Homo sapiens: one gene and its partners. The protein of the gene in region 5 purifies or fractionates together with the protein of the main gene of each other region. This does not show direct contact. Each region holds a gene or a part of one and is shown on either strand. Other genes may lie near its edges. The genes, in order: SLC2A12, ACADM, PTH2R, ADGRG5 and AASS.

Evidence for each region.
Region 1: the proteins of AASS (region 5) and SLC2A12 purify together in Homo sapiens (co-immunoprecipitation; one large-scale study listed by IntAct). This does not show direct contact.
Region 2: the proteins of AASS (region 5) and ACADM fractionate together in Homo sapiens (co-fractionation; one large-scale study listed by BioGRID). This does not show direct contact.
Region 3: the proteins of AASS (region 5) and PTH2R purify together in Homo sapiens (co-immunoprecipitation; one large-scale study listed by IntAct). This does not show direct contact.
Region 4: the proteins of AASS (region 5) and ADGRG5 purify together in Homo sapiens (co-immunoprecipitation; one large-scale study listed by IntAct). This does not show direct contact.

Annotation. Positions count from the first base shown.
Region 1 is NC_000006.12:134,049,375-134,054,810, reverse strand, and holds the start of SLC2A12 (solute carrier family 2, facilitated glucose transporter member 12), read left to right. Parts: upstream 1-2,186; 5' UTR 2,187-2,330; coding exon 2,331-2,433; intron 2,434-5,436. UniProt on the Homo sapiens protein: Insulin-independent facilitative glucose transporter.
Region 2 is NC_000001.11:75,751,424-75,756,117, forward strand, and holds part of ACADM (medium-chain specific acyl-CoA dehydrogenase, mitochondrial isoform a precursor), read left to right. Parts: intron 1-4,694. UniProt on the Homo sapiens protein: Medium-chain specific acyl-CoA dehydrogenase is one of the acyl-CoA dehydrogenases that catalyze the first step of mitochondrial fatty acid beta-oxidation, an aerobic process breaking down fatty acids into acetyl-CoA and allowing the production of energy from fats.
Region 3 is NC_000002.12:208,489,576-208,494,269, forward strand, and holds part of PTH2R (parathyroid hormone 2 receptor isoform 1 precursor), read left to right. Parts: intron 1-1,063; coding exon 1,064-1,105; exon of another isoform or gene 1,106-1,210; intron 1,211-3,688; coding exon 3,689-4,084; 3' UTR 4,085-4,694. UniProt on the Homo sapiens protein: This is a specific receptor for parathyroid hormone. The activity of this receptor is mediated by G proteins which activate adenylyl cyclase. PTH2R may be responsible for PTH effects in a number of physiological systems.
Region 4 is NC_000016.10:57,548,793-57,553,486, forward strand, and holds part of ADGRG5 (adhesion G-protein coupled receptor G5 isoform 1 precursor), read left to right. Parts: intron 1-4,694. UniProt on the Homo sapiens protein: Orphan adhesion G-protein coupled receptor (aGPCR). Ligand binding causes a conformation change that triggers signaling via guanine nucleotide-binding proteins (G proteins) and modulates the activity of downstream effectors, such as adenylate cyclase.
Region 5 is NC_000007.14:122,112,722-122,117,415, forward strand, and holds part of AASS (alpha-aminoadipic semialdehyde synthase, mitochondrial), read right to left. Parts: intron 4,237-4,694; coding exon 4,158-4,236; intron 4,040-4,157; coding exon 3,912-4,039; intron 2,502-3,911; coding exon 2,353-2,501; intron 1,000-2,352; coding exon 877-999; intron 509-876; coding exon 397-508; intron 1-396. UniProt on the Homo sapiens protein: Bifunctional enzyme that catalyzes the first two steps in lysine degradation.

The DNA of each region.
Region 1 (5,436 bases), on a different chromosome or scaffold from region 5:
AAGGAGAAGTACAGGGTTCGTAACAGAATTGAGGCAGAGTTTCCCCCCTCTAGTCTGGGTGAAAAAAATTTTCTCCCCTAAACTTTTCTCTGAGTTAAGAGATTGAGGTAAGTACAAACAGAGCTTGAGATAGCCAGTGGCCCCGGTCAGGTCACCAGCAGAATAAAGAACAGAATTAGGAGCACCAGGAGGTGATGTTGTCAGTTGCATTGCTGAGCATTCTTTTTGACTCCTGGTTGGCTTACTATGCCTGTGGATCTCCTGTATGGTTTGGCTACACAAAACAGAGTGAGAACTGTTGAACTGCTTTTAACCATAGTAAAGTATTCTGGAATTAGTTTTGTCTTCTGTCTAGTCAAGCACTATAGCAAACACTCTAACACTCCCATGGGGCCAAGAAGCTGCTAGAAACACAGGTTGTGGGATCACGAAACAAAGCAATGATACAACTAACCCATTGCAAGAACATTTTCCCCCTAATGAGGTCATTGGTTCTGAGCAGAAAGAAGTTAGAAGCCAAGAGAATATAGAGAACTTATGGGAAACATATGTGTCTCACAGATAGAAACTGGGACTCCTATATAATTATAATGCACCCTGGGAACAAATAAAATGAGTTGTTTCAAACCATGGTTGCGTTACACATTCTTTAGTGGGGACACTGATGTGTGGGATTCTGAACTTCTCACCCTCTTAATCATAAGGGGCCTGGATTATGCCTGGAGGACTTCCATTTTCTAGCACTATCAGCAGACATACAACGGGTACATAATAAAGACTAGTTGAATTATTATAGGTTTGTTTCCATTTGCTACCTGTTTCCCTGAAAGATAAGAAAAATATAGAATTATTTAATGACAAGCAAAGGAAATGTACAAATAAGTGAATTTAGAACTTTGAAGTGATTCAGTTAAAATGTTGAAAAGAAGTAACAAAAATTTAGCTTCTGCTTATACAAGCACAAATTTGTTTTTCTGTCCAGAGAAATGCCTATGACTAAAAGCCATATTTCACGGCATCTTCTTAAAGTCGAGTAGGTCTGAAACCATAGGAAGCCAAGAAAATTAGAGAAGGACAAGGCTGGGAAGTTAGAATATAGGAGAGTTACAGCTTTAGACCTCCTGGATTCATAATCTCAGCTCTACCACTGATTAGCTGTGAGACTGTAGCCAAGTTACCCAACCTCCATTTCCTCTTCTATAATGTTGGTACCTGCCTCAAAGTCATCATCTGCGTTATTGCGCTTAGCACAATTTCTGGCACATAAGTGCTCCACACATGTTAGTTTTTATTCCAAATGATTTTTAAGATGATCTCAATTTCCTCTATAAGGCTTTTTTTTTTAATAAACATGATTTGTTGAATGAATAACTGAAGGTAAAATGTCATAACCCTGTAAGACTTTTTTATAAATATGTTCACAAATCAGAAAAAGATCCTCTCTCATGACCTGATTTTGTTTGAGATTACATGTCCACCACACGCACACAATGGGCCACTTAGTCTGGCCTCTCTGAGTGAGGAGTATCCTCCTCCTACCTACGCAAACATGAAACCTAACAGAGGATTCAGTGTTAATTTGTCTCTTAAAGACAATTCTGCATTAAGAAATGGATTACTTTGCTATAACCTCAGCATATAAAAAGTCTAAAGAATCTGTGCATTCTGAGTTTGTGTATTTTTGGTCTCAGGCTGTGATTTATCTGAAAGGCCTTGGAGAGAAAGATATAGGCCTTTACCTAGACCAAAATCAGGTTGAAACAATAAAGGTATTTTATGCTTTGTGTAAGCTGGTAAATACCATGACTTTTGGAATAACAGTCTTGCTGAAAAATTGACACACTTTTCCTTCTGGTATGTCTTTGCATAAATTGTTCCTCTTTCTGCAAGATTAACTGATACCATCTGTGAGTATTCTATCCCCACTCTCAGCTTGCATTTAAATCTGCATGTTTCCTTTCTCTGCCTCTTTTCAAAGGTGCTAGAATACAAGAGCTACCCTTAGCTAATGGCCAAACACTCCGTCTGAGTTCCCTTTCTTTTAACCCCTTGCTTCCAACTCTGCATCTAAAGGCAAAAACAATCCTCTGACTCACGGCCCTCCCCCTGCCTGTGATAGGCTGCTTGGAATAGCAACAGCCTGTGTCACCGAAAAGGGCAAAGCCTTCGGAAATAGAAACAAAGTTGGTCACAAATCACATTAGCTTTGCCCGAAGTTTTTCCCCACACTCTTCTTTAGCATGCTATTATGGGGAAAGTGACCACTCCTGGGAGCGGGGGTGGTCGGGGCGGTTTGGTGGCGGGGAAGCGGCTGTAACTTCTACGTGACCATGGTACCTGTTGAAAACACCGAGGGCCCCAGTCTGCTGAACCAGAAGGGGACAGCCGTGGAGACGGAGGGCAGCGGCAGCCGGCATCCTCCCTGGGCGAGAGGTAAAGTGAGCCTGCAGTGCTCGGGTGACCGCAGAGAAGCAAGCTGTACTCATCTCCCGAGTGTACTGTCTCTTGAGTCCCGTGTGTGTGTGTGTGTGTGTGTGTGTGTGTGTGTGTGTGTGTGTGTATGCGCGCGCGCGCATGTGGGCGCGCTGGATGAGTGGAGAGAAGGGGACAGGGTCTGGTGGGACGTGGGACAGCTCGGAGCTGTAATGTTGTGAAGATCGAAGTCTTGGTGGAACCTTATGTGCCAAGAAAATACAGGTTACACATCCACCACTGGTATGATGGGTCCCCTTGATTGTGTTTACATAATACAATGTATGGATGTTTTTCATATTGGAACGGTCCACTGGCAAAGATAGTCTCATTTGTAAACACACACAAGCACACGCTTGCTTACACTTTTTCATTTATTGTCACAAATGGACACTGTGTAACCAGTTGACATTATAACCACTGTTTTAAAAATCAGTATTTTAAACAGGCTTCATAAAATTATTAGTTATGTAATCAATGAGAACACAAACTTCCTTTTTAAATTCCCAGCACGTTTGTGATGAATTTGAGCGTTATTCAGAGCCTGAAACGCTTGCTTTGCTGGGTTCTGCCTTCTTTAAAACTGGCCTTGCAAACTGAGGTTTGTTTGCTATGATGACCTTCTGAAGGTGAAATTTGGAAAAGTTTTAATTCATTTAATGATCTTTGATAAATCAGAGGCTGGTCTTCACTTCCACATTTACAATTCCCACAAATACATTGTACGCTTTTTGCTGCCTCTTCCTGCTCATTTAGTTTGTGCTGCAAGGAATAGAAAGTAATTGTAATATGAAATGACAACAAACACAAAAAATCTTCTCTTTCCTACTACTTTCCTCAGCTGTGTATTCTTAATCAGATATTACATTCCCAAGCAGCATATAGAAATTTCATGCAAAATCCAATACACTAAATGATACAAAAGACATCTGCCTTTCTCTTGGGAATGGTCCTAATACTGACGTTTGCCTTGTGGGTTTGTCTGATCTTGGGGAATCGAACCTGTGACCCCTAACATCGAGGCATGAAGCGGCCCTCTTCAGGAGTGGAGAAGCCCTCCATCTTCCATGTCCTGATCTCTTCTCTTGCTTTCACACTTCTCGTCAAGAATGAGGCCGGGCGTGGTGGCTCATGCCTGTAATCTCAGCACTTTGGGAGGCCAAGGTGGGCAGATCACTTGAGGCCAGGAGTTCAAGACAAGCCTGGCCAACAGAGCGGAAACCCTATCTCTACTAAAAATACAGAAAAATAAAAAAATTAGCTGAGCATAGTGGCACATGCCTGTAATCTCAGCTACTCAGGAGGCTGAGGTACAAGAATCACTTGGAGGTTACAGTGAGCTGAGATCATGACACTGCACTCCAGCCTGGGTGACAGAGTGAAACTCTGTCTAACATAATAATAATAATAATAATAAAAGAATATCTGGGGTCATCTTTCAATATGGCCTGTCCTCTCCTATGCAGAAGTACCCTTTTCCCTAAGCGCTTGCTACTCATTGGCCCACAAGTTCCCTAAGAGCAGGCAAGGGAAACTTATATTTGGAGATAAAGGGAAAGAGTTGCAAAGTTCTTTTCTCCAAATTCCTGGGAACATGAGCTGCAGTCTAGACTGCAGAGCAAGCTGAGGTGGTGATGTTAACAAAAGGGCTCACTAAATACAGTCAGTGATAATGTCACAAAGAAGATGAAAAGAAACTGCCTAGGAAGAGCCTTTGTAGTAACCATTAAAAATGGACTGTTTATTTTGATATGGCTTTGAAGGTACAATGTGCTCTTAATAGCTTATATTGTACAAATTCACAATTATCCAGAAGAAAGATAATGTGTATTTACATTTGCAATAGTTGGTTACATGCACAAAATTCAACTTAAAGTGCAACTGTTTATGTTGTAAAGAAATAATAAATGAATAAGTACCATAAATTATCTTTCAAATTTAATTTTAAATTAACTTTCATTTTGTAGAAGAGAAAGCCTGAATGTTTCCTTAAAATGTCAGATGAATACAACTTTGATTTGTGCTATACATAATCTGCATTTAGATGAATGCAAACCTTTTATTTTCTACTTTTGTAAATTTTCTTAACTTATCTTAAACATCTTTTGGCACCCAAAAGCAATTATACATACATATGTATAAATGAATGCATAGTGCAGACTTGCTGTATGGTTTTCTTAAGTTACTTAAAGTCTCCATTCATTAATATTGGGATTGTATCTTCATCTATTTTATGAAGGTGTTGAGATTTAATGAGGTAATATTTGTCAAATACTCCTTTTGGCTTCTTCATATTTTCAACTTCCATAGTTTTCATTTAAGACATTCAGAGTATTTAAATTATGCTCAACAATTATCACAATATGTCTGCATTTGAAGGTAGCAAGCTTTTCTACATTCCTAGATGGAAAAATCAAAGCACAAAGAGGAATGAGTTATATAACTCAGGACAAGGTAATTAAATCATGTGAGATACTGAAAAACAAAACAAAACCAACCCCCTAAGGTCTGCAGTTGAACTCCCTTGATGCTATTGTGCACAGTGAAAAATTTTGGTAGGTCTTTCTTGACTAACCCTCTTTAACTGAAAAGAATGCTTTGTTCCAATGACTAGAAGCTAATGAACTTAATTCATTTTCAATAAGCTATGACTCAAAGTGGTTACATTTTTAGTAAATTTTTTCAGCTTTCATGGACATGTTCCAATCCATCTTAATATAGGACAGGATTAAGCTCAGTTTGAAATTCTGGTGCCTAGAGTTGACAACAGATATAAATGAAGTGAGATATTAGACGGATGGAGCAACTCACACAAGGGAAATCTGAGGTCAAAAGATGTGTGATCGGCCCACGGTCACACAGAGGATGGTGCAGAACTGACCCTGGTGGCCTCTGGCCCAGGAGATTCAATACTGACTTCTACTTCAGCTCCCAGGCTTCCTTTATTTCATGATCCAAACAATT
Region 2 (4,694 bases), on a different chromosome or scaffold from region 5:
GAAGCTCAGAGGTATTAAATGATTTGTCCAAGGCCACACAATTTATAAGTCACAGATCCAGGATCCTTGCTTTTTTTTTTTTGCGGGGGGTGGGAGACAAAGTCTTGCTCTGTCGTCCAAGCTGAAGTACAGTGGCATGATCTGGGCTCACTGAAACCCCCACCTCCTGTGTTCAAGTGATTCTCCTGCCTCAGCCTCCCGAGTCGCTGGGACTACAGGCACACACCACCACACCCAGCAAATTTTGATATTTTTAGTAGAGATGGGGTTCCCTTATGTTGGCCAGGCTGGTGTTGAACTCCTGGCCTCAAGTGATCTGCCTGCCTCGGCCTCCCAAAGTGCTAGGATTACAGGCCTGAACCACTGCGCCTGGCCTATGTTATACTCTTAATTCTTGTTACTTCCCATGTCCTCTTGAGTATCAGATAATTTTAGTACTATAAAGAGTCGTGTCTTCCATGAATTTCCAGGGTAATTCTTAACTCTTACCCCTTTAAATATTGATGCTCCCCCATTATCTGTATTCTTTCCTGCAACTCACTATGAGTTGTATAGTGAACCTCCTATTTCTCTTTTTTTTTTTTTTTGAGACAGGGTCTTGGTTGCCCAAATGCGAGTGCAATGGTGCAGTCATGGCTTATTGCAGCCTCTTGGGATCAAGCAATCCTCCCACCTCAGCCTCCTAAATAACTGGAACTATAGGGGCACACTACCATGCCTGCCTAATTTTTTTATTTTTGTAGAGATGAGGTCTCACTATGTTGCCCAGACTGGTCTCAAACACCTGAGCTCAAGCAATCTTTCCACCTCAGCCCCCCATGAGCCTCCTATTCCTATCTCCATTTGTCAGTGGTTCTCAAACTATTTGTGGTGAAAGACCAGTTTGTTTTAATTTCCAGTTAATGTGGACCATTATTTTTGTAAAATATAAGAATGTCACAACAATGTTAAATTGCTGTAAAAGTGTCTAAATGCTTATTCTCATCTTCTGTACCATCAACCAGTAACAGTTTGTGAATTGGCACTGTGGACAAACTTGGATTAGCACTGCTCTGTGTCCCTTAACCTTAGTTTCATAATGTATCTTTCTACACTATATTCTAGATAATTTTTTCAGATCTGCTTTCTAGTTCTCTTATCTTGTGCCTAATCTATTTAATCTGTTGATTTTTTATTAATGACTACTTTTCATTTCCAGAAGTTATATTTGGTTTTTTCCATTATACCTTCTGTTCAACATCATACCGCCTTTTCCTTTTTTCTCATTAATCATGTAAAAATTCTTCATTTATAATCAATTTCAGATTTTTTTGTTATCTTCAATTCTTTGGGTGCTAATCTTTCAAGGTGTATTGTGTCTTCTAACTCTTTTATGGTCAATTATTTTGCTTTTATTTTTTATTTGTAAACAACTTACCTGCAGGAAGTACTCTATTTCTCAGAGCATTATGGAAGCATTTTAGAAATTGGCTTTTGTACTTTTTTGGCACTTTTGTTAGGTACTCCAGAGATTTCACCATTCTAAGAGCTGTTATTTTACATTAATTTCTTGACTTGGAGAATCCTGTATCACAGAGCTCGTACATTGATCTCACACATTAAGAAACTCCGTACATTCCAGTCTGGGCAACAGTGTGAGACCCTGTCTCAAAACAACAACAATAACAAAAGTCCTTTTTTTTCTTGTTCTTTTTTTAACCCTCCTGGGCAAGAGATCAGCTTCTTTGTGGCCCTCCTATGCTGATGAGCCCAGACTTTTAATTGCCCCTTTGGAAAGCAAAGCTTTTACATGCAGTGATTCTCAGTTTTAGCCCCTTAGATTGTTCATGCTCACATCGAAATCTCCTGTTCTTATGTGTTTCTTAAAACTCTGGTTCCTATCCTGCTGAGCCCAAATCTGAGTCTGATTTTTCTTTTCCTCCATGTTATCTCTTCTCAGGATTTAAATTCCTTTTTAGAGGCACTTAGAGATTTCTGTTTCTTTCCTATGAGCTTTTTTTTTTTCTTAACCAAGTATTTCTTTGTTAACTCCTTCATGTTGCCAGAACTACATATGTACATTTTACTAAATGTTAGTTTATCTTATTCATAAACAAATTTCAACCTAATGCTTTTCAGTGAAGATCTGTCATCGTCTTCCAGGTCCTCCTTACCCAAGTATCTGATGATAACTGTATTTTTGGCTTTCAACTCAATATAGAATCTTCTCCTTTTATGTTCTCTTTCTTATAAATTCTAAAGATTTTTTTCTTATTAAATATTGAAAAATCTTAGTTTTTCCTTACTGCTTAACTCAAAATAGTCTTTTATCATTTGATTTCTACTGAAGATTTGCTTATCTTTTAAGCACTCTGCAAAATGCTGATAGCTTCTTTTTTTTTTTTTTTTTTTGAGACAGGGTCTCACTCTATTGCCCAGGCTGGAGTGCAATGGTGTGATCTCAGCTCACTGCAACCACTGCCTCCTGGCTTAAGTGATCCTCCTACCTTAGCCTCCTGAGTAGCTGGAACTATAGGTGTGAGCCACCATGCTCAGCTTTTTTTTTTTTTTTTTGTAGAAATGGGGTTTTGCCATGTTACCTAGGCTGGTCTCGAACTCCTGAGCTTGAGTAATCCGCCCATCTTGGTCTCCCAAAGTGCTGGGATTACAGGCATGAGTGACTGCGCCTGGCCTAGTTTTTCATTTTTAATTGGTAGGTACAGTGATATGACACTGTAATTCCTTGTCACTCCTTTGCTAGGTGTCTCTCAACCCATTTGTGTGCCCTTTGAAACTTCAGTTTTTTGTTTTTTTTTTTTTTTTGAGACGGAGTCTTACTCTGTTGCCCAGGCTGGAGTGCAGTGGTGCGATCTCTGCTCCCTGCAACCTCTGCCCCCGGGGTTCAAGTGATTCTCCTGCCTCAGCCTCCCGAGTAGCTGGGTTTACAGGTGCCCGCAACTGCACCCGGCTAATTTTCTTTTGTACTTTTAGTAGAGATGAGGTTTCACCATCTTGGCCAGGCTGGTCTTAAACTCCTGACCTTGTGATCCACCCACCTTGGCCTCCCAGTGTTGGGATTACAGGCGTGAGCCACCGTGTCCAGCCACTTGTCTTTCAGTCTGTGTACTCTATGTATAGCATTATGAATGAAAAGGGTCAGGTTATTCTTGGAATCCACAATTAAATAATTGTTTAGCCATTTCATGTGTGGTATTAGAAAATATACAATGATCTGCCCAAGGGTTCCAAGATGGCTGAATAGGAACAACTCCAGTCTACAGGTCCCAGCATGAGTGACACAGAAGACGGGTGATTTCTGCATTTCCAGCTGAGGTACCGGGTTCATCTCACTGGGATTTGTCGTACAGTGGGCGCAGCCCACAGAGCATGAGCCGAAGCAGGGCAGGTCATCACCTCACCCAGGAAGCGCAAGGGGTCGGGGAATTCCCTTTCCTAGCTAAGGGAAACTGTGACAGATGGTACCTGGAAAACTAGGACACTCCCACCCTAATACTGCGCTTTTCCAACAGTCTTAGCAAACAACACACCAGGAGATTATATCCTGCGCCTGGCTTGGAGGGTCCCACACCCATGGAACCTCACCCACTGCTAGCACAGCAGTCTGAGATGAAACTACAAGGCGGCAGCAAGGCTCAGGGAGGGGCATCCGCCATTGCTGAGGCTTGAGTAGGTAAACAAAGTGGCCGGGAAGCTCGAACTGGGTGGAGCCCACTGCAGCTCAAGGAGGCCTGCTTGTTGCTGTAGACTCCCCTCTGGGGGCAGGGCATAGCTGAACAAAAGGCAGCAGAAACTTCTGCAGACTTAAACCTCCCTGTCTGAAAGCTTTGAAGAGAGTAGTGGTCCTCCCAGAATGGAGTTTGAGATCTGAGAACAGACAGACTGCCTCCTCAAGTGGGTCCCTGACCCCTGAGTAGCCTAACTGGGAGAGACCTCCCAGTAGGGGCCGATTGACACCTCATACGTCCGGGTGCCCCTCTGAGACGAAGCTTCCAGAGGAACAATCAGGCAGCAATGTTTGTCATTCTGCAATATTTGCAGTTCTGCAGCCTCTGCTGGTGATACCCAGGCAAAGAGGGTCTGGAGTGGACCTCCAGCAAACTCCAACAGACCTGCAGCTGAGGGTCCTGACTGATAGAAGGAAAACTAACAAACAGAAAGGACATTCACACCAAAACCGCATCTGTACGTCACCATCACCAAAGACCAAAGGTAGATAAACCCACAAAGATGGGGAGAAACCAGAGCAGAAAAGCTGAAAATTCTACAAATCAAGAGTGCCTCTTCTCCTCCAAAGGAATGCAGCTCCTCGCCAGCAACGGAAGAAAGCTGGATGGAGAATGACGAGTTGAGAGAAGAAGGCTTCAGATGATTGGTAATAACAAACTTCTCCGAGCTAAAGGAGGATACTGGCAAACTGAATCCAGCAGCACATCAAAAAGCTTATCCACCACGATCAAGTCAGCTTTCTCCCTGGGATGCAAGGCTGATTCAACATACCTTGAATCAATAAATGTAATCCATCACATACAGAACCAACGACAAAAACTTATGATTATCTCAATAGATGCAGAAAAGGCCTTCAGCAAAATTCAACAGTTCTTCATGCTAAAAACTCAATAAACTAGGTATTGATGGAATGTATCTCAAAATAATAGCTATTTATGACAAACCCACAGCCAATATCATACTGAATG
Region 3 (4,694 bases), on a different chromosome or scaffold from region 5:
GCTGTAATTACCATCATCTCGCACATGGATTACTCTTTGTCCTGCTTACTCATTTGCTAGTCCACATATGATAGTCTGGAGAATCTTAAGAATATACATTTGATCATGTCATATACTTGCCAGAAATACTCAAAGATTTCCAGTTGCAGTCAAACTAAAACTCACATACCATTGTTTGGCATACACAGCCCTGCATGTCGTGGAGCCTGTCTGCCTCTCACCCTGTATCACACCAGCCTCCATGTAGCTCATTAAGTTAGGGCACAATATTGCTTCCATACGTTCTGTTGCTTAAGTTCACCTCTGCCTCTAGGGCTCACACTTGTATTCCTTTTGCCTGGACTGCTTTTTCCCCAAATATTTACACAGCTGGCTACTTGTTCTTGTCACTCAAACACACTTGAGTATCACTCTCAGAGATACTTTGTTGAGTTCCTCATCTAATACATCCACTACATTACTCTTTTTAAAATCACTCATTTCTTTTCTTGCATAACCCTTCTCATTTTGCATTTTTCTCATGTGCTATTTGTTTATATTTTATCCATGTCTCTTCCTTTCTAGAACAGGGAACTTGTCTGTTTTGTTTACATTGTTTATCCCTGCCCCTGTCATGCTGAACAGCTACCACACTGCATAAGCTCAGTAAATATTTTTGAATGAACGAAATAAAAGGTTTCTTTGTATTCTTACCATACAATACTTTATGTTTGTAGTTTTCAGCATTTACAGCTTATAACTTCCTCTTACCAAGCAGAGGATAGGTATTATGTGATCCATGGGTCACAACATAAATGAAACTAATAGGATAGAAACCTATTCCTTGTGTATCTTGGAATGCTTTATTTAGTGACTTATTTGGTTCAGCTGACACCAAGGAAAGACGTCAAACAAATTTAATGTAAACATAAGGATTTGGAAACACTAGGAGAGAATAATTTGTATATAATTCTCTGAAGGAATCATAAAAAACAATTTTTGGACGTACACATTTTGGCACAAGATGCTTAAGTGCTGTGAGTTTCTGAGTTGGCAGTGGGCTGACTTTCTCTTTTGTCTGCAGGGTTTCTTTGTGTCTATCATCTACTGCTACTGCAATGGAGAGGTAGGTTTGTAGGAACCTTGGACAGGTCTCGCTTCAGCTTGTAAATGGCCATCACAATGTATCCTGAATCTCTTTAGAATTTCCAGGATTTCCAGGATGGAATGGGTGAGGAGAAGGAAGCTATTTTAATCATAAATTATTTTGGAAAAGAAAGAATTAGTGCAAATAACCTAAAGTCTTCCTCTTCTAGCACTTTTAAATGTGAACTCATCTGTACACTCTGACATTAAAAAGCAACTTGTTGGAATACAAACAGACACTTGGATGGACAGTGAACATCATATTCTGGTTAATACTTAAACTTCTATTCCATTTTAAGTTCTGTACAAAACTTATTAGTTTCCCTGGGACAAATTCATTCAAATATTTTGATGTTTTTTGAACTATAAGATGATGATGGGACAATTTTAGTTCATTTAGGAGTTGGCTGGAGAGAAGTAACTACACTAGATAATAATACATTTTACCTTGTAACTTTTAATATGCCCTGCTGTTGGATGAGCTGCCATGTTTCTTCTCTCAAATTTTAAGCTTGCTGCAGGCCCCAGAAGTGCACAGATACTTTTATTGCGGTACACCAGCTGATGCTTCTGACCATGTTTAGGGTTTGGACATTGTGGCATGCTAGTCCAGTGCTTGCAGAAAGAGCTTAAATTAATTTCCTGACTTACTTGTGTATTGTTCTTACCTTATTTTGCAGGAGGGGTAAGTAGGTCAGTTTAAGAGTTAAAGAAAGAGGAAAGAAACCCAAAAAGCACTCAACAGTCAAAGATGGGTTTATTTAGGAGAATAAACCTGGGAGGGGCTTCTGGCCAAGTTAGGTCAGAGAGCCTTCTCTCTTACAGACTAAGAGTTTTTAAGGGTTCAGGGTGGGAGAGCTTATCACAGGCTTGGACTGCTTCTGTATCTCTTTGTCTTGCTTATCTGGGAGGGAGAATTTTTGTGTTTTATCCATACATCTTCCTGCAGCTGCAGGCACAGCCCCTCCTACCCCCCGCCCCCCAAGTCTGCTTTTAGCTTCCATATCTTGGTGCACCTAAAGGGAAAGGAATGTATTTATTAGGACCCACTGTTTTACTGGGGTCCATTGTAGACTGTGAAGTTTTGTGGTTACCCAAGAGACTTTCTCCACTTCCTCTGTGCCCGAGCTGTCTTATCAGTGTTTTATACTGTCTGCTCTTTCTGGCTGCTTGTTGTTAGAAGGGAAGTGATTTCCTCAAAATGCATGAGGTTAGAAAGGGAGCTGGACTTAAAGTGGTGGTGTTTATCCAAGATGATGGTGCTTCTGCTCTGTCAGTCAGGTGTTGATTTGTTTTTGCCAAGATGAACAGATAGAAGTTTGTTGTTTCAGGTGACATCAGCATACTGGATTTCCACTGCTTCCCATGGAACTTCCAAATAAACTCTCTTCTGAAAAGTGGCAATTGAAGTAGAAATGAATCTTCAGTAGTAGGAATGGAAATAAGAGCCCCACCCTATTAAGAATGCATTTGCAGTGCCTGCTTTTCTATCCACGAGCCTTCTTTTCTCACTCTGACTCCTTTAGGCTGCCGATGCAGATTGATAGCATGACAGTTACATTTCAAATTGAGTACCTTCTACGCCATTCCTCAGCCTCAGCTGGTGCCAAAGACATCAGCAATTTAAGTGGTGAAAACAGATTTTATTCAGTAACTACTGACAGCAGGGGAAAGAGCTGAGCCCAATTCCACTTCACACAGAAGTGATTTGGGCATTTTAAAGGGAGAATGAGGGAGGTGGAGTGTAAGGGCTCAGTAGAGTCAAAGAAGTGAAAAAATATTTGGTCAGTATAAACACGTTTAGGCCAGCTGTGCTAGCAATCAGGCAGTTATTTAAGATAGAATTCTATCTTCCCACAGAGACTGGGAGACAAGAGGCCTTATCCCTCTTGATTTTTATATTTTGAAGGGATGGCTCTCAGGTCCTTGAGAGAGATGCTTCTGAGTTAGAAGAGCTACATATTTACAATTGTGAACCTTTTTAGTAAATGCCCTAAGAAAGGGGAGTCATGGGCCTATCATCAGGTGTGTGCTGGCTAGAGCAAATAGTAAATTCTCCTGGCAGCACTGAGCTTTCTCAGGCAGGCACTATCAATGGCTGAGATCATCCTAGGGATGCCACCTTGTGCTGCTAGAACCATGCTTGAGTTTGGGCAGGTCTCAGTGCAGGGGTTCCAGTGGGCTTGTCATGTGCCACGCGAGAGTTCTGAAGTTCTCACTGGCAATGTTTATCTTGAGTTTCTCTTCCAACCCAGAATCTCCTTTTTTTCCTCTCCCATATGTCAGGTATTTCTATGGGCTGCATTTAAACTTCTGTTTAAAGTCTGATCTTGGACAAGTCCCTTCACCTCTCTCTAAGCTTCAATTTGCTCACCTCCAAAACTAACACCTGTCTTGAAGGTTTTTTGAGGTTGAGAGAAAGTCATAGATAAAGTCCCTGGCACGTAGAGGAACCTCAATCAATGATTATTGCTGTCATTGAAATCAAGGCAAACATCTTTGTAACAAGGCTGCAGGGTCTCCTTTAGGATTTCTCATGCACAGCATGTTTCTCGTGGCTTAGGTTCAGGCAGAGGTGAAGAAGATGTGGAGTCGGTGGAACCTCTCCGTGGACTGGAAAAGGACACCGCCATGTGGCAGCCGCAGATGCGGCTCAGTGCTCACCACCGTGACGCACAGCACCAGCAGCCAGTCACAGGTGGCGGCCAGCACACGCATGGTGCTTATCTCTGGCAAAGCTGCCAAGATCGCCAGCAGACAGCCTGACAGCCACATCACTTTACCTGGCTATGTCTGGAGTAACTCAGAGCAGGACTGCCTGCCACACTCTTTCCACGAGGAGACCAAGGAAGATAGTGGGAGGCAGGGAGATGATATTCTAATGGAGAAGCCTTCCAGGCCTATGGAATCTAACCCAGACACTGAAGGATGCCAAGGAGAAACTGAGGATGTTCTCTGAATGGACATTTGTGGCTGACTTTCATGGGCTGGTCCAATGGCTGGTTGTGTGAGAGGGCTTGGCTGATACTCCTATGCTTGAGTTCAAAGGCTGAAAATTCAGTTAAGGTGTTACTTAATAATAGTTTTTAGGCTCCATGAATTGGCTCCTGTAAATACTAACGACATGAAAATGCAAGTGTCAATGGAGTAGTTTATTACCTTCTATTGGCATCAAGTTTTCCTCTAAATTAATGTATGGTATTTGCTCTGTGATTGTTCATTTTTTTCTGCTACTTTTGGGTAGAAAAAAGATTCAATTGCTTGGCTGTAGCTTTCTCTCATATATATCACCCTAAATATAATGAAGATCTTTTAGTGTGTATCATTTTCCTTTTAGAAACTAGTATTCTCTTATTTCTTACTTTAATGTACTTCTATCACTGCATTTATTTTGCCTGTGCATAGGAGCAATTAGGATCTAAAAAAATATATGGGAAGATAAAAGATCTAAGAACAAGTACTTGCTGGAAAATTAGTTGGCTGGACATTGATAAAATAATGCATTTATAACAATTACATGTGTTTCTGGGAACAAGGAAAATTTCTCAAAAAAGAATATTTCACACATC
Region 4 (4,694 bases), on a different chromosome or scaffold from region 5:
TTTAGAAATTCATTTTTTTAACTGCTGAGAATTGTATTTCAGAGTGTAAAGGTATCACCATTTAACCATTTTCACCCACTTTGAGGCTATCATGAATAAAGCTGCTATGACTCTTCATATACAGGTTTTTGTGTGAACACGAGGTTTCATTTCTCTGGGATAAAAGCCCAAGAGTGCAATTATTGGGTCATATGATAGGTACATGTTTAGTTTTATAAGAAACTGTCGAACTGTTTTCCAGAATGGCATTGGAGTGTAATTTATTTATTCCTCTATTGATAGACATTCACATAGCTTTCAACTTTTCTTTATTAACAATACTATTCTAAATATTCTTGTATGTGTATAATCCTGGCTTGCCCTATTCTTTCCATAGGATAAATTCATAAGAATGAGTTTCCTGGCTTAAAGGATATTCAGAACGTAAAGTTCGAATGTGTTGCTAAGCCGTCCCCTTGCAGATGAGGCTCAGATCTTAGACAGAGAGTGCAGGAATGTGCCTGTCCCTACAGACTCACTGGGTGCTATCATATTTCAGATCTTTGCAGATCCAATGGTGGAAAAATGAGAACTCATGTTCTTAACTACTTTCCTCTGCCACTACCATCAAACACATATTTTGAGTTTTGTGGCTCTCCCTCTTGAAGCCTTGCAAGTTTTTGTTGACTTCCTTTCTCTAAGAGGAGGATCATCAGTTCTCTTGCCCTCCCTCCCCTATTTCCTCTTCTTCATCCTCTTAATATGTTTTTTGATTGGATTTCTAAAGTCTTGTCTATAGAGGTATACATACAATAAAATTCACCCTTTTGGAGAGGAGTTTTTGCATTTTGACAGATGTGTACAGTCATGTATACATGTATATTACAATCAAAATATAGAACATTGCTGTCCCCTGAAAAGTTGTCTCAGGCCCTTTTGTAGTTAATATCTTTTCCCTACTCCCTGGCAACTACTGATTTGTTCTCTGATCCAATAGTTTTGACTTTTCTAGATTCCACTTCCATGTTACATTCCCTCCAGAAATGAATGAGGCTTCCAGCTGTTCTATATCCTCATAATACTTTGTATTACCATTTTAATCCTAGTCATTCTAGAAGGTGTGTAGTGATATCTGATTGTGGTTTTTATATGCATTTCTCTAATGACTAATGATATTGAGTGTTTCTCATGTGCTTATTTGCATCTATACATTTTTTTTTTTAACATGTAGTTCCAGCTCTGTCACCCAGGCTGAAATGCAGTGGCATGATCTCAGCTCACTGCAGCCTCCTCCTCCTGGGTTGAAGCAATTCTCCTGCCTTAGACTCTTGAGCAGCTAGGATTACAGGCACATGCTACCACACCTGGCTAATTGTTGTATTTTTAGTAGAGACAGGGGTTTCACCATGTTGGCCAGGCTGGTTTCAAACTCCTGACCTTGGGTGACCCACCCGCCTCGGCCTCCCAAAGTGCTGGGATTACAGGCATGAGCCACCGCGCCCGGCCCATCTATATACATCTTCATTGGTATAGTGATTGTTCAAATCTTTTCCTATATTTATTGGGTTGTTTGTCCTCTTATTAGTTGTGTAAGAGTTCTTTATGTAGTCCAGATACAATTTTTTAAAAACATCAGATATGTGTTTGTAAATATTTTCTCCCAGTCTGTGGCTTATCTTCTCGTTTTGCTAACCATGACTTTCAAAAAGCAGAAGTTTTAATTTTGATGAAATTCAACTTATCAGTTTTTTGTTGTTGTTGTTGCCATGGATCACGTTTTTGGTGTTGTTTCTAAGAAATCTTTGCATAACCTAAGTCAGAAGGATTTTCTTTTTTGTTTTTTCCAAGGAGTTTTACAGGCATATCTTGGAGATATTGTGGGTTTGGTTTTAGACCACCACAGTAAAGCAAATATGGTAATAAAGTGAGTCACACAAATTGTTTGGTTTCCCAGTGCATATAAAAGTGATGCTTACGGCCAGGCACGGTGGCTCATGTCTGTAATCCCAGCACTTTGGGAGGCCGAGGCGGGCGGATCATGAGGTCAGGAGATCGAGACCATCCTGGCCAACATGGTGAAACCCCATCTCTACTAAAAATACAAAAATTAGCCGAGCATGGTGGTGTGTGCCTGTAATCCCATCTACTTGGGAGGCTGAGGCAGGAGAATCACTTGAACCTGTGAGGTGGAGGCGGAGGTTGCAGTGAGCTGAGATCGCACCACTGCATTCCAGCCTGGGCAACAGAGCGAGACTGTCTCACACATGAAAAAAGTTATGTTTACATTATACTGTAGTCTATTTAGTGTACAAAAGCATTATGTCTAAAAATGTACATACCTTAGTTAAAGGACACTTTATTGCTAAAAAGTACTAGCAATCTATCTGAGCCTTCAACAAATCACACGCTTTTTTGCTGGTGGAAAGTCTTGCCTTGATGCTGATCAAGGTGGTGGTGGTTGAAGGTTGGGGTGGCTGGCTGTTTCTTAAGACAGCAGTGAAGTTTGCCACATCAGTTGACTCTTCCTTTCATAAGATGTTTTTCTGTAGCATGTGATGCTGTTTGATAGTATTTTACTCACGGTAGAGCTTCATTCAAAATTGGAGTCCGTCCTCTCAAACCCTGCAGGGGCTTTATCCACTACATTTATTTAATATTCTAAATCTTTTGTTGTCATTTCCACAGTGTTCACCATATCTTCACCAGGAGTAGATTCCATTTCAAAAAACCACTCATTGTTCATCTATGAGAAGCGACTCCCCATCCATTCAAGTTTGATCATGAGACTGCAGCAATTCAGTCACATCTTCAGGATCCACTACTAATTCTAGTTCTCTTGCTATTCTAATCACATCTGTAATTACTTTCCCCACTGAAGTTTTGAACCCCTCAAAGTCGTCCATGAAGCATGGAATCAACCTCTTCCAAACTCCTGTTAATGTTGATATTTTGACTTCTTCCCATGAATCACAATCACATGTTCTTGCAGCATCTAGAAGGGTGAATCTTTTCCAGATTTTCAATTTACTTTGCCCTGATCCATCAGAGAAATCACTATCTATGACAGCTATAGCCTTATGAAATTTGTTTCCTAAATAATAAGACTTGAAGGTCGAAATGACTCCTTGATCCATGGGCTGCAGAATGGATGTTGTGTTAGCAGCACGAGAACAACATTGATCTCCTTGTGCATCTCCATCAGAGCTCTTGGGTGACTAGGTACATTGTCGATGAGCAGAAATATTTTGAAATAAATCTTTTTTTTTTTTTGAGTAGTAGGTCTTAACAGTGGGTTTAAAATATTCAGGAAACTATGCTATAAATAGATTGCTATCATCCAGGCTTTGTTATTCCATTTGTAGAGCACAGGCAGAATAGATTTAGCATAACTCTTAAGAGACCTAGGATTTTCAGGATGTTAAATGAGTATTGGCTTCCATTGAAAGTCACCAGCTGCATTACCCGCTAACAAGGGAGTTAGCCTGTCCTTTGAAGCTTTGAAACCAGGCATTGATTTCTTCTCTCTGGCTATGAAACTCTTAGATGGCATCCGCTTCCAATATGAGGCTCTTTCATCTACACTGAAATTCTGTTGTTTAATGTGGCCACCCTCATGCATGATGTTAGCTAGTTCTTGTGGATAACTTGCTTCTCCATCAGCACTTGCTGTTTCACTTTGTACTGCTATGTCATGGAGATGGCTTTTTTCCTGAAACCTCATGAACCAACCTCTGCTAGCTTCCACGTTTTTTCAGCTTCCTCACCCACCTTGGCCTTCATAGAATTGAAGAGTTAGGGCCTTGCTCTGAACTAGGCTTTGGCTTAAGGGAACGTTGGCCGGGGGCTGGTTTGATCTTCTATCCAGATCACTGAAGCTTTCTCCATATCAGCAATAAGGTTGTTTTGCTTCATGTGTTCACTGGAGTAGCACTTTAAATTTTCTTTAAGAGCTTTTCCTTTGCATTCATAACTTTGTGAACTGTTCGGTGCAGGATGCCTCGCTTTTGGCTTATCTGGGTTTTCACGTGTCTTCCTCACTGAGCTTAAAATTTCTAGCTTTTGATTTAAAATGAGAGATGTGTGACTCTTTCTTCTACTTGAACACTTAAGAGGCCATTGTAGAGTTATTCATTGTTCTGATTTCGATATTGTTGTGTCCTAGAGAATAGGGAGGCCCAAGAAGAGGGAGGGAGACAGGGGAACAGCTAGTTGGTGGAGCAGTCAAAACACATACATTTATTGGTTAAGTTTGCCATCTTATATGGGCGCAGTTTGTGGTACTCCAAAACAATTACAATAGTAACATCAAAGATCTCTGTTCACAGATCACCACAGCAGGTATAATAATAATGAAAAAGTTTGAAATATTATGAGAATTACCAAAACAGGACCCAGCCATTAAGTGAACACTTACTATTGGAAAAATGGTGCAGATAGACTTCCTTGATGCAGGGTTGCTGCAATCTTCAATTTGTAAAAAAAACCCACAAGATTTGCAAAATGCAATAAAGCCAGGTATACCTGTACAGTTTTAGTCTTGTTATTTGCATCTGTGATCCATTCTGAGTTAAATTTTGTATGTGCTTCAAGATATGGATTCAAGATGGCTTTTTTGTTGGCATGAGATATCCAATTGTTCCATCACTAATTGTTGAATCAATTATCCTTTCTCTATTGAATTATCTTTGCATCTTTGTCAAAAATTAATCGACAAA
Region 5 (4,694 bases):
CCAGAACCCAATAAAAATGTTCTATATTTCTAATTTTTCAGACCTGGTTATTACGGCACAATAAGAGTGCCCCAATATGAACTGACATAGATGGCAAAAAATTAAAAATAAAGCATGTTTTATCTCACACGTGGTGAACATTCTTAATAAAAGACCTATAATGGGAAAGAGATGTAATTGTAATTAAGCATGAAGGCAGTGATATCATCCTATACCCCAAGAGACAAGTAAGCAGAATATGTCAAATAAAATAGTATCAGTAAGTATTTCAGGGAAGGGCTGGCATTTCATTTTACAGCAGATTTCTTAGATACAGAAGACCAGAACATTCACAGAATTACTCAATTATTCAATTTAAAGCCACAGAGTTGTTACTGATATTACCAGTCTGCTTACCATTTCTTCAACATAAGGGTAAAGCATGTCTCCAAAGCATTCTGTAGCTTCAATTGGGAGCTGTGCCGGCAAATTGTCAATGGAACACATCAGGATCCCCGAGCCTTCAACACTAAAAGCAGCAATGTGGTTTATTCAGAAGCACAAAACATTATTTGTAAGTTCTGACTTTTCCAGATGTCTACTCCACTATATTTGCTTCATTATCATTTGTAATTTTGTATAAAAGTATACGCGAAAATAAACAAAACTTTTCAAACAAAACGTTTTCCTTCTTCAGCAACCCATCTCACATTTAAATATATTTGTGTATGTGTGTGTGTTCAAATGTGCATGTTTTTTTCCCCAAATTTTAGTATGTTTGAGTATATCTCTCCAAATTTTCATAACTTCATAAAGATGTAAAATACTGAGAATTTTAGAGTAGTATATCAATGTAACTAAGTGAGGAATATCATCTAACAACTTTAGCAAACTCACCTGTCATGAATAATATGCTGGTCTGCATCATACATGCAAAAGGGATGCTCTATTGTTGTACACTCAGTCATAAACTCTATAGACCCTCCTGTGTCAGCTGAAATGTCACATATTGCCACGAGTCTGAAAATAACATCAATACTTAGATGAGAGGATGAAATTCTGAAGTCTCCAACAAGACTAAAAAAAAAGGAGTTTGGAACAATTTTCAATGTGGATCCCAAATATTTTCCAGGCTTTTGGGGTCTTTTTCCTATAGCTCATTCTTCAGGACTCTGCACTGTTCTGTGATACAGAGAATCTTCCCAGTATGAATTTTAGTCTCCAAAAAAAAAAAAAAAAAGAAAGAAAGAAAGAAAAGAAAAAAGGAAACAAACGCAGAAAATTGCTTTCCTAGAGAAATCATTAACAGACTAAAGTTAACATAGTTATCTCTAAATAACTCAGAAAGGTTCAATTATGCTACCTCCACCCTGCTTAGTACTGTATAGTTTTACATGTGGTTACACATAAATCTCTAGAATTACGAACAAAAGTTTCAGTCCAGCATTCAAAAAGTTGACTACAATTTTTCTGCCCAATCTCCAATTACCACTTGCATACATGAACCAATGTAGAGCTAGACTGACACATTCAGCACCCTAAATATGCTTTGGTAGCTCCATATTTATTAAGCACCAATCCTTTCACTTGGAATTCTTGTTCTCCTCATTCCTCCCTTTAAGGTTTGCTGCGCCCAATGCTTCTGCTTTCTTCTAAACCCTGGTGATGTTGTTGCTCCTAGCATTCCCTTGGCATTTACTTGATGCCAGTTACATGCCTAGAAAAGCAGACATATCTTTTACTCTTCCACAAATATTAATTAATTAATTCAATATTTAATAATTATTTCAATGCCTATTATATATCAGGCAACGTACTAGGTGCTTGTGGCCAAGAGAAAGAGACCCCCTATCCTCAAGGAGATTAAGTTCTAGGAAGAGGGAGAAAAATCATAAACACGAGAAAATAAATGAGGAATTTCAAAACAAAAAACAGAGTAACAGACTAGAGATAGAGATGAGAATGGAGAAACAAGAGAAGACTTCTCTGAGCAAATAGCTTCAGAGCTGCATGGGGCATCACAGAAGACAAAAGAAGAATGTTTCAAGAAGTGGAGGTGGGCTGGGCATGGTGGCTCATGCCTATAATCCCAGTACCTTGGGAAGCCAAGGCAGGAGGTCTGCTTGGGGTCCAGAGATTTAGACCAGCCTGGGAAACATAACAAGACCCCATCTCTAAAGATAAATATATACAATAAAATTTTAAAAAAAAAAGGAGAGATGGTTAACAGTGTTGAGTACTGCCAAGAGGTCAAGAAAGATAAGGCAGAGAAGTAGTCATTAGAAATCAAGTCCTCTGATATGTGATATTTGATCCTCTAATAATGGAAGCAGCTGGTCAAAACTACTATCGTTGCTGAAGTAGAGTCCTTACTTGTGTGGTAATGCAGGGCAGCCTTCCACACCAGCAGGTGAGAACTTGCCCGGAGCCAGGAGACTCTGAGCATCTTGGCGGGTTAGGAGGCGAGGAGTGTTTTGTTCCCAGTAGATTCCATTAATTAAGCAAGTTGTATAGGGTGCAATCTGTAATGCAAGTTCCAGGTTCAAGAAAATAGAAAATAGCCTATTTTAATACAGTATACTGAAAGAAAGCTATCAGTAAATTCTATGAGAAATAATTAAATGTAACTTCTAATTGATTTTCTTATTGTCCATGTCAGTGTCCATCTTTTGAGGCAAAGATATTAAATAGCCACCCAGATTTCAGTATAGAATTACCCTATGATAGAGAAATATATGACTATAAATACATTAGTGTGTTCATTCTATAATGTATTGCATGCCGAAGAAAAATGAAAGGACAAAAACAAAACAAACAAAAAACGGTGGACCTAAAATTATATTTCCAGCTCTAATATCAGTAGGGTATGACCTAAATCATGCTACCTCAACTTCCCTGGGCTCTATTTTTCTTACTTGCCAGATGGGGATAATACGCACCCCATTCCTCAAAGGAATGCTGTGAAGATTAAATCGGATAACATCTGTAAGCTCTATGGAGCAATGTGCTACATACATGCATACATGGCAACTAGGTCAGTATCAGTTTTAGGATGCATCCAATCACCAATACTTCTGTGATTGGGGAAATGAGAAGGAATAAAGATTTCTTAGATTCCAAATTTTTCAGTTTGAAACTATGTTCATAATTTTTCTTCTTCAAACATCTCAAGCTGAAGGTAAGAATTCTTTTCCCTAACATGCCCTGCACGATATAAGGGCTAAACTTCATACCAGAATCTGAAAATGTTATGTTGGTCAAACATATTTAAAATTATTTAAAGCATTCTTTTTCACAATAAATGCATGCATTTTTTGTTTTATGTATTTTTTGGTTTGTTAGTTTATCTGGGGGAAGAATGTTGCATGGCCAATGACTATAGAGCACACAAATATATTTTATTTCTTATAAGATGTGTGTCGCATCGAAGGATTTGATTTGTAAGTGTAATAGCTTTTTCATTCAGTGGGGATGGTCTGCACTTATATAGGAACGCTATTTAACCCTCACCCTGATAATCAATGGCATGCATTTCAAGATTGCTGGCTGAGATTATGGTTGCAATTTGCGGCCATGTTGAGACCAAACGTCATAGGCATTATGCTCTGCCCACAGTGCTAACTAGTCCAGGATAAATACAGAAAACAGTAACGCACAGGAAATGGCTTAGCGCTATTGGGCACATGTAGACCTGAAGCAGAAATGGAGACAGTGAAACAAAGAGTGTATCCACAGAAACCACCAAAAGCACTAAGCGAGACTACTCCAAATACCATAAAAGATGATAGCTCCAAAGGCCAAATCATGATACCCAAAGGACTCACAACAGGAAAACTGAAAGCCATTGTACAATTCATAATTTCTCTCCTTGAAAATAGCCTACCTACACTGTATCATAAGCAACCAACTTAAAAGGTGAATATGATACTCACATCAGTATTAAAACGACTTATGTAGCGCTCCGGATGTTTGTCATACTCTGCAGGATCATACACAGCATCTGTTTTCCTGACAAGATGATGATGACGACTTAACACCGTCCCATACACTTTTCTGAGGTCTTGAAAAGGAGAAAGAAATTAGTAAAGTGGGTGACAAATAATAAAAATTTATGGTGATAAAATATTATAACATAGACTGTTAAAAACATTAAAAGTTAGTCATCTCCTGTCCCTTACCTCCAGTTTGGGAAACTTCTTTTAATTCATGGGGCTCCACATATTCACAAGGTAGCTCATTAAAGATTGCTTGGGCTCCCTACAAATAACACATGAGTAAAAATCCAAAAATCAATAGAAAAAGAACCAACATGGTTTTCTGCAAAGATCTGATCATTTTCCCAACAATTACATAGCTCCACTTGCCTTCCCTACAACCAGGACTGCAACACAGAAATACAGATGAGTTGCTTACAACCAGCCTGCTAGCTAGCTTTTATTCCTGTTAGAACAGCACACTTAGAAAGGGCTTTAATTTTTTTCTTTTTTACTTAAGCTACTCAGAGTATCGATAAGAGTGTTTAGAAATGAGGGAAAAATATTTCCATTTATTTTAGATCCATTGCAGAAATTATTTCAAATGGGGAAATTATATTTCCTACAAAAGAAATAATCAGATGCTTACCTCACAATATAATAAGAATGATATCCTATTTGTAAAATATTTTCTTTGAAGCAGGAATTATTTTACAATGACAAGTTTCTATAGGAGATTAC